Linked DNA regions of Homo sapiens: all the other regions are linked to region 1. The links come from fine-mapping of genetic effects on gene expression. A gene starts in region 1. Each other region holds a variant in brackets. All regions are shown on one strand. Distances are from middle to middle. Region 1 holds the start of DLGAP3 (DLG associated protein 3). Region 2 overlaps DLGAP3 (DLG associated protein 3). Region 3 has its middle 19 kb from the start of GJA4.

Evidence for each region. PIP is the estimated chance that this variant, and not a neighbour inherited with it, causes the effect.
Region 2: its variant is the best candidate, but not a certain one, in a credible set for the expression of DLGAP3 in whole blood (GTEx, PIP 0.90).
Region 3: its variant is the best candidate, but not a certain one, in a credible set for the expression of DLGAP3 in lung (TOPMed, PIP 0.51).

Annotation. Positions count from the first base shown.
Region 1 is chr1:34,927,239-34,932,468 of GRCh38, forward strand. DLGAP3 (DLG associated protein 3) reads right to left here and starts at 2,412. Exons shown (of 12, transcript NM_001080418.3): 1 at 2,213-2,412. RefSeq lists silencers at 1,921-1,990, 2,971-3,020.
Region 2 is chr1:34,889,656-34,894,885 of GRCh38, forward strand. All of the region lies in intron 5 of DLGAP3 (DLG associated protein 3), which reads right to left. Among named protein-coding and RNA genes, the nearest start is that of SMIM12, 33 kb to the left of the region's middle. The variant A/T (reference allele first, on the strand shown) is at 2,604.
Region 3 is chr1:34,809,818-34,815,047 of GRCh38, forward strand. No RefSeq gene overlaps it. Among named protein-coding and RNA genes, the nearest start is that of GJA4, 19 kb to the left of the region's middle. The variant G/A (reference allele first, on the strand shown) is at 3,258.

The DNA.
Region 1 (5,230 bases):
CTGTACTCAGCTCTGATGGGGGTGGGGAGAGTTCAGGAATAGAAGGCAACATGGAGGATTGCAAAGTTCCTCGTCTAAGATTAGCCTAGGAACTCACAAATTCGTTGTGTGACCTTGGGCAAGTCCCCTCCCTTCTTGGGGCTTCAGAGTCCCCGGTTTGTAATGAAGAGGTTGGACCAAGTCAATACTAAGGTTCCTCTCCTGGCCATCATTCTACAGCTACATACAAGCTCACTCGTTGGATGTGAGCCCCCTGGCACAAAACTCAGCGGGCCCTGCCTGCCAGATCAGTGGGGCAGTGGCGGGTGGGAGATGCGGGGGCTGTATGTGAGGCCGTTCATCCTATGTTCATGTTCCTTTTAGAAACACCTGCCACCCTAGCCCTCCCAGCTCCCTTTTTAGACCCTGATTCACTGCCAACTCACGAAGCCTCTCCCTCCCCTCCCTCCTCTCTTCTCCCCCCACCCCCCACTCTTTTAGGCATTGGCAGCTGGGTGCAGAAGTAGCCCCAGCATTCAGGGAATGCTGCGCAGTGGTAGAGGGCAGTGCCCCCAGGGTCAGAGAGAGCACACCAGGAAGTACCACTCTCTAACCTTGGCCCAGCCCAGTTCTTTGGGTCACTGAAAGACCTGGGCTGAGGTCTTTCTGTACCACTAACTAGCAGTGTGTGGTTGTGGAAAATGCAATTCATTTCTCAAGCCTCAACATCTTCATCTGTAAATCGGCATTATATTTGGTTGAACCATATGAAATTGCTGTTTTTGTAGGTTAAATAAAAACAGTTGAATATTGCAGTTGCATATGGCTTAACGTGATACCTGTCCTGCCTGCTTCCCAAGGCTGTTGGGGAAATAAGAAGAGTTCAGAGGGCAGCATTTTCAAAAGCCCTGAACTAATATGAGGGCATTATTTTATTATTATTACTTCAAAGAGCTTAGTACAGACCCACCCGGAGCCAGTGGACTGAACCAATAACCCAGAACTTGAAGGTTTGGGACTTGGAAGTCTGGGAGAGCGCCACCTGCTCTGATGACTAACAGGGCAGACGCTTCCACCTGGCCTCCTCATCTCCTAGCTCTAAAAGGCCCTTGGTGAAACATTATTGAGATGACACAAGTTCCCAGGCCCCCAAAAGGAGAAGCAGCACACGCAGGCACATACTCCAGCTCGCCCCAGATCCCCCCTCCCACCCACCAGGGGCCTTAGCATGCAGGAAGGACACGACCAGCAACATCCCAGAGGGCACCCCCTGAGGTAGGTGAAGGTAGAGACCAAGCTGGGGAGTGCCACAAAGCTCTTGCCTGAATCAAGGGTCAGGGGTCCCCAGAGAAGTGGGGAATGATCTGACCTCGGAAAAGTCTCATCTCCCTGTCCCATATCCCACCAGGAATGGGGGGACAGTGGGGGGGACAGAGCCCAGGTGTGGGTGATTCAGAGTGAACCGCGCTCAGATACACTCTCTCTCACACAGCCAACGCACGCGCGCGCACACGCACACACACACACACACAGTCACACAGGGCAGATACCGGGACCCACTCACAGAGACAGTCACGCCGGCACACACATCCATTCACACACTCACAGACACACACAGGCACACATGGGGACAACACACACTCATTCACTCACATGTCCACAGATGCATACACAGTACCACCCTCCACACTCACGCTGCATACACCCACTAACATGCACACACACTCTCGCCCACAGTGACACACGCACACACTCACGGCATACACTCACCGGCACACACAATCGCCCACAGACCCACACAGTGACACACTCGGCACAGACACACAGCGACACGCACTCACATTCACACACCTGCAGAGGAAACTTCTCTCCGGATCTCCCCAGCACCACGACTTCCCCCACAACCAGCTGGCTACTCCCTCCCAGACCCGAGCCTCCAGCCGGGCGAGGGCTGGGCCGGGGCTGGCCTGTCCCCGCGGCCCTGACCGGGAGCGTGGGTCCGCGGTCCGCGTGGTCCCCTGCCCGCCCCTCGGGTCGGGCCCGCGGGCAGCCAGGCCGGGGCAGGAGCGGGGGCAGCTGAGGAGGCCCAGCCCCTCCCCCCTCCCGGGGCCGGGAGCCGAGCGCCGGAGCCCGGGGCGTGGGCGGCGCCGGGGCCGCAGCCGGGCCGTGCCTGGGGGGCGCTGCAGAGGGAGCCGCGAGCGCGGCCCCGTCCCCACTCCTCCCCGCGGCTTACCTGGCCCGGCTCGGGCTCCGGCCGGGTTACATGGTGCCGGCGGCCCGGGCCGGGGGCGCTGCGGCGTTGGGCAGGCGGGCAGGGACCGGGGCCCGGCACTGCGGAGCCCCCAGCTGAGGGGCCGCGCCGGCTGCGGAGCCCCAAGCGAGCGCCGAGCGGCAGCGGGCGCGGGAGCGGGAGGCGGCCAAGCCACGGAGGCTGGATTTCCCGGGGACCGGGAAGGGGAGGCGGGGGGATCCCGCCCGCGCGCTCCGCCCCCGCCCCCGCCCCCGCGCAGGGCAGCCGAGCAGGGAGAGGGAGAGGGAGAGGAAGAGGGAGGGGGACCGAGCTCCCCGCCCCCGCGCGGACCCAGGAGGGCCGAGGTCGCCGCCCGCGGGCGGCCGCCGGGGTCCCGGAGGAGCGCCCACCTCGCTGAGCGACGGTGCTGGGGGCGCCCAGCGTAGGGGCAGGAATGAGATCCCCCTCCCCGGGGACCCAGGAACAGGCACCCGAAGTGTCACGGCCACGCACAGCCGACCTGGGTACAGGGACCCAAGCCCGGCGGCGGGCGGGCGGTCGGGGACCAGCTCAGCCTCACGGACCGGGTCTCGCCCCCCGCCGAGGGGCAGTCACGCCCTGAATGTCACACACAGCCCCCAGGCCCGTCCGCTTAGGAGACTCTCCTTCGGGCTTTCCCGGTCGGCCGCCTGACCTCAGCTCCTGGCTTGGGGTCAGGGAGCCCCCCTCTTCGGCCCCAGCCCCTGCCAGGATGGGGCGCTGTGCCCGGCCTCGGAGCCGCTGGCAGGCGTCCCCCACCCACAGTCCGCACAGCCGAGGCATCCCCAGTGTGGAGGGAGAGCCCCGCTGTACCTGCCGCCTGTGCTGGGCCCCCGCCCGTGCCCACTGTGCCCGCCCGCCTCTGGGCCCTGAGCCTGGGATTGTGCCATGGCGGGGTCGGGGTGGGGGGAAAGGGACTGTCCGAAGCACAGCTGGAGGCTGCGGAGCCCGGACACAGGCTGCGGGAGCCGAGAGGCGGAGAGCGGACTGCAGCAGTCCCCTGGCTTGAATCCGTCTTGGCGCCCAGAGCGATGCTGTAATGGGGGGGAGGGGGCCACGGTGGGGAAGCCGCAGGGGGAGGGGCTGAAGACGTGGGGGAAGGGGTGGCTCCGGATTCCGGCTTTCCAGGGTAGGTGTGAGGAAACACTGCCTCCGGCGCTGAAAGTTGGGGGTGGAGGTTCAGTGGGCATCCTTAAAGCCCTCTTCCCTCCTCTACCTTTTCCGGTCTTGAAAGCTTGGGATGGTGAGGTGTGGGCTTGGGAGGCTTGAGACTGCCCACCTCTCTAGGAACATACCTTGGAGTTGTTCTGATTCAACGGCCCCCACCCCGCACCCCAACAACTCCCTGCTCTCTGTTTCCTTGTGGGGCCACCGGCTCTCCTCCCTGTATAAAGGGGAAAGTGAGGCACGGAAAGGAGAAGCCAAAGGCCCAGAAGAGCTAGAACTGGGAGCCAAGACCTCTTTTCCCCAGGGAGATGATGTTTTAAGATGCCACATTACATTAAATAACATAAGGGGCTTGGAGAGCCCTCTTCCCAAGGGATACCTAGAAGTCTGGTAAGAGACTAGTAGATTGGTCACCTACCCTGCTGCTCACAAGAACGGTTCATTGTCTCTTCAATCATGAAGTGAGGTTGCAGACCATTTCCAGCCCAGGGTTCAGTCAAGAGCAGATGTCATGAAAATAAGAAAGTTGTTCCCAGGAACCCACTTTAGAACTGAAGGAAACATCTCACTTTCCGTGGAGCATAAGAACAGCCGTTGGGCCGAGCGCAGTGGCTCATGCTTATAATCCTAGCACTTTGGGAGGCCAAGGCGGGTGGATTACCTGAGGTCAGGAGTTCAACACCAGCCTGGCCAACATGGTAAAATCCCGTCTCTACTAAAATTACAAAAAATTAGCCGAGTGCAGTGGCACGTGCCTGTAATCCCAGCTACTCAGGAGGCTGAGGCAGGAGAATTGCTTGAACCCGGGAGGCACAGGTTGCAGTGAGCTGAGACTGTGCCACACTGCAGCCTGGGCAACAGAGCCAGATTCAGTCTTAAAGAAAAAAAAAAAAAAGGATGAGCTGACGGCCGGGCACAGTGGCTCACGCCTGTAATCCCAGCACTTTGGGAGGCTAAGGCAGACGGATCACCTGAGGTCGGGAGTTCGAGATCAGCCTGGCCAACATGGTGAAACCCTGTCTCTACCCGAAATACAAAAATTAGCCCGGTGTGGTGTTGGGCGCCTGTAATCCCAGCTACTCAGAGGCTGAGGCAGGCGAATCACTTGAATCCGGGAGGCAGAGGTTGCAGTGAGCAGAGATTGCACCATTGCACTCCTGCCTGGAACTCCGTCTCAAAAAAAAAAAAAAAAAAAAAAAGAACAGCCGTGATAGAGGATGTTAAAAAGCACCACCGTGTTTTCGCAGTTCTAAGACCTGTATTTTGTAAACTATTCTGAAACTGGAAAGCATCTTACAATAAACAGGGACATTTAATATGGCTCTTCTTACCTTTCTGTTAAAGCTATTAGAGTTGGTGCATTTTAGAATTGAGAACATAATGTTATTTTCATTTGTTCATTCAACAACCCTTTACTGATTATACCTGGCACCTTGCTAGCCTCTTGGGGGCATACAGGTTAATCAGACAGGCTTACCTTAGACAGTGTTCTCCCATAGCCATCCAGTGATTAATAACTGATTAATAAGGGAGATGGAGATGTAAACCAATAATTACTATCAGGGCCAGCTTCATGGGAGTGTGACCTGTGCAGTCGTACAGAGCCCCACATGTAGAAAGGCATCACTCTTGGTAGAATATTCTGCTGTCACTGTCTTAAAATTGTTAATAATTTTTGGACAAGGGGCTCACCCTGGGCCTAGCTCTGCCTAGGTGAAGAGGACAGTCAAAGAAGCACAAAAAGCTGGGCGCGGTGGCTCACGCCTGTAATCCCAGCACTTTGGGAGGCCAAGGCAGGCAGATCATGAGGTCAGG
Region 2 (5,230 bases), 38 kb before region 1:
CATCGTGTATACTTTACTTGTGTTATTTAGTTTAGATAACCTTTAGAAAACTCTCCCATTTCAAAACATTGGATGAAATATAACAAATGTTGCTTTATATGCATAGCTGAGCTCACAAGAAAGCGAGATAAGTCCCCAGGGGACAAAAGCAAAGAGGAGACTGGAAAATCAGAATATTAACTGTGTGAGCCAATGCTGCAAACAGCCCAGTGGAGGCGGGAGGTGGGGGCAGGGGCTGTTGGTCTCAGCGTTTTGGTAAAGGCTTAGGTTTTAACACCCACTTGGGCATAGGAGGAAGGCTTTGGGCCCACATGAAGCGTGGAATTGGAAAGGAGAACCTGCATAAAGTTAGGAAAAGTGAAACCTTTGATGAAAATGTAGACTAGAATAAAAAAATTAGTCATCACCACAGGCTGATGACAAGGAAGCTGGTCTGAAGTACAGGGATGGCGGGAAGGGAAAAGAGGCAAATCCCCTAAGAATCTGTACCTACAAGCTGGTCCTCACACAGCCACGGTACAGTGTATCTGCATGAACCTTCATGGGCCACACCCCTAAAATTAAAAATTAGCATAAAATAGTTCCAAACCAGGCATATTCCAACAGAAGCAACTGCAAAATATTTCCTGGGGAACTCACTCCTAACCCAAGCTGCTCATGCTTCTCACAGATAAATTTCCATTGAAGGTGAGTGTATTATGTGGGAGACAGCCTCTGAAATAGCTCCTAATGATCTCCATCTCCTGGAACTCACACCCTTGTGTAATCCCTTTCTCATGAGTGTGGACCAGACTTATTGGCCCACTTCTAATGAATAGAATATGGCAGATACAATGGGATATCACTTCTGAGATTAGGTTACAAACAGACTGTGGCTTCCATCTTAGACACCTTTTCTTATTCTCTTTCTCTCAAAGCCTTTGCTCTGGGGGAGGCAAGCTGCTATGCTGTGAGTAGCCCTGTAGTGAGTCTCACATAGAAGAAATTGATGTCCCTGGTTAGTAGCCAGCAAGGATCTGTAGCCTGCCAACAGCCATGTGAGTGAGCATGGAAGCAGATCTTCACCCAGTGAAGCCTTGAGATGCTGCAGCCTTGGCCAACACCTTGATTGCAACTTTGTGAGACACTTGACCCAGTCGCACCCAGCCAGGCTGCACTCAGATTCCTGATCCACAGAAACTGTGAGATAATAAATATTTGTTGTTTAAAGATACTACATTTGGGGATAACTTACATAGCAATAGAAAATACAAATTGTGACATAAACAAAAACTAACTTTTATTGAGTTAAGCCATTGAGAATTCAAGATTTCTCTGTTAAAGCAGCCAGTGCTACCTTAGCTAAAATAAAATAACTTTTAAATGATGTTTAAAAGTTCCAAGCTTAAAAGATAAAACTGAGAACAGAAGAAAATACGACTCTAAAGCAGGACAAACTGTCAAAACCCACCATTTTATCACTCTGCAAATCAATCAAAGACATACAACAAAGAAACATGTATTCATAAAAATTACTGGACTTTGGGTAAGAATAGCACGACTCTATAGTATTCTTGCCTGAGGCTGCTCTCGTTCACCAGGCTCCCAATGCTATCAGTTGCAATACTTCAACAAACGTGGTGCCGCCTGTGAAAAATCAGCTGCTTCACTGCCTCTGCCAGAGGGCTCCACTTAATTTGGGGCATTGTCAGTTATAATATCAAGAACAGGAAAGGCCAGAAGCACTGTTAGGCTGGGTTTCAGCAATGTTTGGGCCAAACAATGGACTGGCAAACTAACCAGGAATTTATCAGAAAATTCCAGGGAGTGAGACAGACCAAGGGAGTTTGATAAGCTCTCCACATATCTTGGGTTAACTCGAAGCTGGGTGAATGCACAGCAGAGACCAGAGAAGCCTGAGCCACCCACACATCCCTAGCCAATGGAGCTTATATATGTGTGCAGGGGAAATAAAAGAGTCTGGTGAAGAGTAAAAGCCAGGGTAGGTTTGAAAACAACCTGAACTTTGCCCTCCCCAGCTCACACATAGAACTATAGGCAGACACAAAGTCTAACTAGCTTGAGGTTCTTGAGCACAACCTCCGAAAAATCTCTGGCTGAACACTAAGCTATGCAGATATGGGGGAAACCCCTAAGAAACAAGGCTTAAAATAAAAATAAGAAGGAAATAAAACTGAATGGAAACATCAGAGGCCACATGTTGTAGGGAAGACAGATTTCACAGATTTCATTCAGGGATTAACAAACAAAGCAATAACAATCTTCAAGAGGAAAACATAATCTAGAATTACTACAATATATTATCTAAAATGTTCAGTATTTAACAAAAAATTATGAAACATGCAAATAAACAAGAAGGTATGCATATCCCCAAATGTTGCTTTTATCAGACAAAGACTACAAGGCAGCTATTATAAATATATCAAAGAATTAAAGGAAACCATGCTTAAAGATTTAAAGGAAAGCATGACAACAATGACTTCATGAATACAAATCACAACAAAGAGAGAGAGATTAAATAAAGGAACAAATGGAAATTCTGGAGCTGAAGAGTAGGGTAACTGAAATTAAAAATTCAGTAGAGGAGCTCACCATAATAAATG[A/T]TCAGTAAACATGAAGATGGATCTGTATAAATTATCCAATATGAATAATGGAGAGAAAAAATATTAAACAGAAATGAACACAGCCTCAGAGGCCTATGGGACAACATCAAGCATAGCACCATGCATGTGATGGGAGTTCCAGAAGGAGGAGGGGAAAAAAAGAGGAAAAGGAAGAGATAGGGCAGAAAAAAATATTTGGAGAGACAATAGCCAAAAACTTTCCTTTTGTTTTTGTTCTCGTTTTTTGTTTTTGTTTTTTTTAGAGATGAGGTCTCACTATGTTGCCCAGGCTTCAGTGCAGTGGCTATTCACAGGCACAATCATAACATAGTGCACTACAGGTCAAACTCTTGGGCTAAAGCAATCCTACTGCCTCCACTTCCCAAGTGGCTAGGGCTACAGGTGCCCACTACTGTGCCTACCTACCAAATTTAATTAAAAAACAAAAAACATTAGAGATCAAAGAAGCTCAATGAACCTAAAGTAGGTTAAACACTAAGAGATCTATATTCACACAAATTACAGTCAAAATGTTGAAAGCTGAAAACAGAAAATCTTAATAGCAGCACAAGAAAAACAATTCATCACATAGAGGGAAACAACTCACTTTTCATCAAAAACAATGAACACACGGCCGGGCGCGGTGGCTCACGCCTGTAATCCCAGCACTTTGGGAGGCCGAGGTGGGTGGATCATGAGGTCAGGAGATCGAGACCATCCTGGCTAACAAGGTGAAACCCCGTCTCTACTAAAAATACAAAAAATTAGCCGGGCGCGGTGGCGGGCGCCTGTAGTCCCAGCTACTCGGGAGGCTGAGGCAGGAGAATGGCGTGAACCCGGGAAGCGGAGCTTGCAGTGAGCCGAGATTGCGCCACTGCAGTCCGCAGTCCGGCCTGGGCGACAGAGCGAGACTCCGTCTCAAAAAAAAAAAAAAAAAAAAACAATGAACACCAGAAGGCAGTGGAGTGGTATATTCTAAGTGCTGAAAGAAAAATAACTGTCAGCCAGGAATTTTATATCCAGCAAAACTATTCTTCCAAGATGAAGTAAAAATAAAAACATTTCCAGATAAATGTAGACTGAATAATTTATTGCCAGGAGACTTATATTATGAGAAGCACTAATGGAAGTCCTTCAGGCTAAAGGGAAAATAAAGTAATAGCCAATGGTAACTCAAATACAGAAGAAGAAATAAAGAGCACCAGAAATGGTAAATATGTGAGTAAATACAAGAGCCTCTATAAATATATTTTCCTCACTTCCTCTCTTAACTTCTTTAAAAGATGTAAGATTACACAAAGCACTTATTATAATACCAATGTTGGTTTATAACAAGTGTTAGGTTTAAAACATATATAGGTAATATATGACAGTAATAGCAAAAAGGGGGAAAATGAGTTATATTAGAGCAATGCTCCTATATTTTACCATAATTATATTTTGATAAGCTAAGATATACATTGTAATTCCTAGTGCAATCACTAAGAAAGTAACTCAAATTGTATAGTAAAAAATTAACAAATAAATATAAATGGTACACTAAAATATTTATTGATTTAATACAAAAGAAGACAGTAAAGAAGGAACAGAGGATCAAAAAATAATATGACAGTCCAACCACATCAATAACCACATTAAGATGTGAAGGTCTGGCATGGTGGCTCATGCCTGTAATCCCAGAACTTTGGGAGGCCAAGGTGGGTGGATCACTTGAGCTCAGAAGTTTTGAGACCAGCCTGGGCAACATAGTGAAGCCCCATCTCTACAAGAAATACAAAAATTAGCCAGGCATGGTGGTATGTGTCTCTAGTTCCAGCTACTTGGGGAACTGAGGTGGGAGGATTGATTGAGCCTGGGAGGTCAAGGCTGCAGTGAGCCATGTTCACACCACTACCTTGTAGCTTAATGACAGAGCAAGACCCTTCCTCAAAAACAAATTAAATAAATAAAATAAAACATGAATGGACAAAAACACTCATTCAAAAGGCATAGTGATAAGATAAAGCAAAAAAAAAAAAAAAACCATTAGATGCTGTCTACAGGAGACATACCTTAAATCTGAAACACAAACAGTTGAAAGTAAAAGAATGGGGAAAAGATATACTATGCAAACTATACCATGAGAGAATTTTCCAGAATTGATGAAAAACATGAATCCACAGACCTATGGAGCACACACATGAATATATCATAGCAAAACTGCAGAACAATAAAATCAAAGCAAGATCTCAACAGCAACCTGAGAGAAATTAAAACTACCTACAAAGACAATCAGGATGATAGCAGACTCCTTAACGGCAACAACAGACAGATGACAAAAGAATATCTTCAAAACACTTAGAGAAAATAAATGTTAAGCTAGAATTCCCACAATAAGCTAAACTGTATCAAACAGTATGGGTAAAATATATTTTTTGTTAAAGTCCAAGTTTGCTACTAACAGATATTCACTGAAAAAATTACTAAAGAATATACTTTAGGAGGAAACAATGAGATGTAAGGAGGTAAAGTGAGGAGTAAAAAAGGTAGAGATGTGAGTACATACAATCAAGAGCTAATAATATAAAAAGTAACAATAATAATAGAGACTAATTTGACAGGTTAAAAGGTAGAACTAAAATACTGGG
Region 3 (5,230 bases), 120 kb before region 1:
TGCTGCACCCTTCAGAGAGGACAAACACTGTGTCTTCACATGGCAGAAGGGATAGAAGGGCAAAAGTGGGAGGGGGGGTGCTATTTCCCTCCAGCCCTTTATAAGGTTGCTAATCCCATTCATGAGGGCTCTGCTTTCATGACTTAATTACCTTAATTACCACCTCTTAATATTATCACATTGATGATTAAGTTTCAACACAAACTTTAGAGGGGACACAAACATTCAAACTATAGCAACTGGGCTTTTCCTTTCTTGGATCCTGTTCAAACCTAATTCCATCTTCCCATCAGTTGTACAAGTTATATAATACCTTTTCAATTAAATTCCTTTTCTGTTTAAATTAATCAGAGTCCATTTCTATTGCTTTCAACCAAGAGTCTTGACTGGTAAAAAGCTTGTATAATTCTCTGACACAGTCCATACATGTCATTATCCAATCATTCATTAACAGGTTGACCAGAACAGAGACTAGAACAGTCTTAACGCAGGCAAGTAGCAAGCTTTTGGAAACCATACTTAAAAGTACTTTGACTAACATAATGTCACATACATGACAGTAATGACAAGTGGTATTTCCAAATATCACGACTATTCATTCAACAAATACTTACAGAGGGCCTGTTATGTTCTAAGCATTGTACTAAGCTCTGGGAATTAGTAGAAAACAACACAGATCTGGTCTCTGTCTATGAGGAGCTGAGAGTCTAATGGGAAAAGCAGAAGTTAAATAAGCATATAAGATCACAAAATATAAACACGCTATGAAGGAAAATAATTTCCCCACGAGAAAGAAGAAGAAGAATATCTAATTTACCAGAGGATTCAGAAGAAATGGAGCCTAAAGTGTAAGTGGATATTGGGAGTAATCCAGGAAAAGAGAAGATCATATACAAAATCGCAAAATAGCTAATGAGAGAACCTGAGAAAACTCACTATACAAAACAGATAGAGATACTGGGTAAACAGCAGTCTTATTACTGGGTACATACCCAAAGGAATATACATTGTTTTATTATAAAGATACATGCATGTATATGTTCATTGCAGCACTATTCATAATAGCAAAGACATGGAATCAACCTAAACGCCACTCAATGATAGACTGAATAAAGAAAATGTGGTACATATACATCGTGGAATACTATGCAGCCATAAAAAGGAATGAGATCACGTCCTTTGCAGGGACATGGATGGAGTTGGAAGCCATTATCTTCAGCAAACTACCACAGGAACAGAAAACCAAACACCACATGTTCTCACTTATAAGTGGGAAGTGAATGATGAGAACACATGGACACCCAAGGAGGGACTGACACACACTGTGGCCTGTGAGGGGTGCTGGGGAGGGAGAGCATCAGGAAGAATAGCCAATGAATGCTGGGCTTAATACCTAGGTGATGGGATGATCTGTGCAGCAAATCACCATGGCACATGTTCACCTACGTAACAAACCACATCCTGCACATGTACCGCTGAACTTAAAATAAAAGTTGAAGACAAAAAAATAAAGAAATGCTGGGTAAATTTTTACAAGCAACTTTTCAAGTGTAGCACCGAGCTAAAAATAAAGGCAACAAAACTAAAGAGGAAATTAAAACTAAAATGAATATGTGGGTACCAATGCTTTTTTGTTGTTGTTGTTGTTGTCATGTGTGTTTTTGTCTGAGACAGTCTCACTCTGTCACCCAGGCTGGTGTGCAGTGGTGCAATCTTGGCTCACTGCAACCTCCACCTCCTGACTTCAAGTAATTGTCGTGCCTCAGCCTCCCGAGTAGCTAGGATTACAGGTGTGCACCACCACACTTGGCTAATTTTTTGTATTTTTAGTAGAGACAGGGTTTCACCATGTTGGCCAGGCTGGTCTCAAATTCCTGGCCTCAAGTGATCTATCTGCCTCAGCCTCCCAGAGTGCTGGGATTACAGGCGTGAATCACCGTGCCTGGCCTACCAATGCTTTTTGTTGTCCTGCTTTTGGTAACAAGGGGTTGGCTTTTAATGATGATGTAGGAATAAGGCACAAGGCTTTGGGCCCACCTGAGGAGGTTAAACTGAGGCTCCTGCATAAAGCCAGTACACTATCCGTCTCTCTCAGCCCTGGTTCTAGTAGGAGGAAATATGCCTCACCTGAGATTTGGTAACCACTGCTCTACATGATATAGAGTTCAATTTTCTTTTTCTTTTTTCTTTTTTCTTTCTTTTTTTTTTTTTTTTGAGACTTGAGTCTTTTTTTTGAGACGGAGTCTTGCTCTGTCACCCAGGCTGTAGTGCAATGGCGTGATCTCAGCTCACTGCAACCTCTTCCTCCTGGGTTCAAGCTATTCTCCCACCTCAGTCTCCTAAATAGCTGGGATTGCAGGCACCCACCATCACGCCCAGCTAATTTTTGTATTTTTGTAGAGACGGGATTTCACTATGTTGTCCAGGCTGGTGTTAAACTCCTAACCTCAGGTGATCCACCCGCCTCGGCCTCCCAAAGTGCTGGGATTACAGGTGTGAGCCCCTGTTCCCAGCCTAGGGTTCAATTTTCTACTCCTTGCAATGTCCACATACCTCCAACCTGAGAAATTAACGTAATAAAGAGTCCCTGGCTAATGCGAACCTTAGGGTACCTGGAAGAGACCGACAAAAAATTATTCTTGAGGGATGTTTCCTCAAGCCAGGCCACATGGAAGTTCCATTTCTAAAAGGCCTACCATATCTGAACACCAATCCAAAATGACAAAATACACCAGAAAATAATGCACCATGAATGGAAGTATGCAAAAACAATATACGGAAGAATTTCACTTCCAAACACTTCAAGTCATTGAACCATTGGTCAGGATTTTAAATTCATGTAATAAGCCAGGCACGGTGGCTCACACCTATAATCACAGCACTTTGGGAGGCTGAGGCGGTCAGATTACTTAAGGTCAGGAGTTTGAGACCAGCCTGGCCAATATGGTGAAACCCCGTCTCTACTAAAAATACAAAAATTAGCCAGGCGTGGTGGTGCACGCCTGTAATCCCAGCTACTTGGGAGGCTGAAACACGAGAATCGCTTGAACCTGGGAGGCAGAGTTTACAGTGAGCCAAGATCGTGCCATTGTACTCCAGCCTGGGTGACAGAGAGAGACTCTGTCTCTAAATAAATAAATAAATAAATAAATAAATAAATAAATAAATAGAAAGAAAATTTATGTAATAGTTTGAATTACTGGTTTCAATACTTTATCCTCCCCTGCATCCACACCCTTGCCCTAGCCCCACTGTAG[G/A]CAGAGTATACTTTTACGCCTTTCAACTTAGAGCTTGGCTAGGTGCCTTGTTTTGGCAAATGACTTGAGGAGGAAGGGGCCATGGACGATTCCCAGACTCAGCCTTAAGAAGACTGAGTGTTTCTGTTTGTTCTTTTGTGCCTCTGCGATCATCACAAGAAGAACTTCCTCGGGGTGGCTGCTGCCTTTCAGCCAGGGCCCCGAATGAACGCTAGAAGCAGAGCTGCCCCAACTGACCACAGATCTACAGTGAAAAGTGGAGCCACATCAGCTGCCCCAGTTTTAGGCAGAGGCCCCCAGCAAAGCCCAGCCTAGTTCCAGCCAGTCAACAGATTCATAAAAATATGCGATTTTTGTTTTAGGCCAGTGAGTTTTCGAGTGATGTGTTATATAATATTACTATGAAAATATCCATGTGATATGAATAAGTATGCTTTATATTATCGAGAAAAAAACAAAAAGGTATCAAAATTGAGGGAAAAAAAAGGTGTTCTTTTAAGACCATGAAGAAAGAAATCTAAATCAAACATAGAAATATTTTAGAAGTTATTGAATTTAAAAGCTAGTGGAGAATTCTGCTTCTACTCACAAATGACACTTCTATGCAAACTTTCTTCCAACCATAAACAACTAGAAAACCAGGCAAAATATATGAAACAACTCCTTTTGGATACTGAACAATAGGTAGTGAAGAACTCAGGAAAGGGAAATAAAGTGAGCCCTACCATTGCCCCAGTTACTTGTGAAGAGTTTCCAGGCTGCAGAGCAGGGAGAGAAACCCAAACAGAGATCCACAGTCTTGCTAAATTGAAGAGAAAGAGCTCAGAATTCAGGGAGGCAAAAATGTCTAGATTTTCTGGGGCAGAATACCACAGAAGATGGAGCTGCACAAAGAAAGAGAATTCCAGAGATCTTCAGAAGGGTACCCTTGAGTGTTTACCTAAGTAACAATCACTGCATGTGTAAGGTGAAACTCCTAAGGCAATAATCAATAGAAAACTATAAGCTGAACAAATCCTGGAGCTCCACAAGGCTAAGAATAGTTCATGTTTGCATCTTCCAGAGTGGAAAAAACACAGAATACACAGGGCACTGGATAAAGTCTTGACATTAGCAACACACAGGAGCAGGCTAAATTAGCCCCACACTAAATGATCCTCTTGACTCACCCTAACAAAACTTAAAAGCAAGCCTCAAGAAGATCTAATATCCCAAGTGGCTCAACTGCATGGCAGAGCAATTTCAATATTTTATAAAGGAATACAACAAAACCCAGCATCCAAAAATTACAACTTACAATATCCAACACTCAATAAAAAATTACCAGGCATGCAAAGAAGCAGGAAAAAGTGACCCCAAACCAAGAAACAATTTCATAAATAGAAACAGGCCCCTAAATAACAGAAATGATGGAATTAGCAGAAAATGAATTGAGTTACTTTATAAATATAAAAATATATTCTCAATGATATAAAGGAAAACATGAATATGCTGAAGAAAAAAAGAAAAATACATTTTAAAGACCAAAATGGGATTTGTAGAGAGAATAAAATGCAGTATCAGAAGAAAAAAGTACATTGGATGAGATTTACATCAGAATAGACACTACAGTAAAGATGAAGACATACCAACAGAAACTACTCGAAATGAAGTACAGAAAGTCATTCAGGTGACTTTCTGTCACCTGTGCAGTGGCTCACGCCTGTAATCCCAGCACTTTGGGAGGCCGAGGCAGGCAGATCACAGGGTCAGGAGATCGAGACCATCCTGGCTAACACAGTGAAACCCCGTCTCTACTAAAAATACAAAAAATTAGCTGGGCGTGCTGGTGGGTGCCTGTAGTCCCAGCTACTCGGGAGGCTGACGCAGGAGAATGGCGTGAACCCAGGAGGCGGAGCTTGCAGAGAGCCGAGATCTCGCCACTGCACTCCAGCCTGGGCGACAGAGCGAGACTCCGTCTCAAAAAAAAAAGA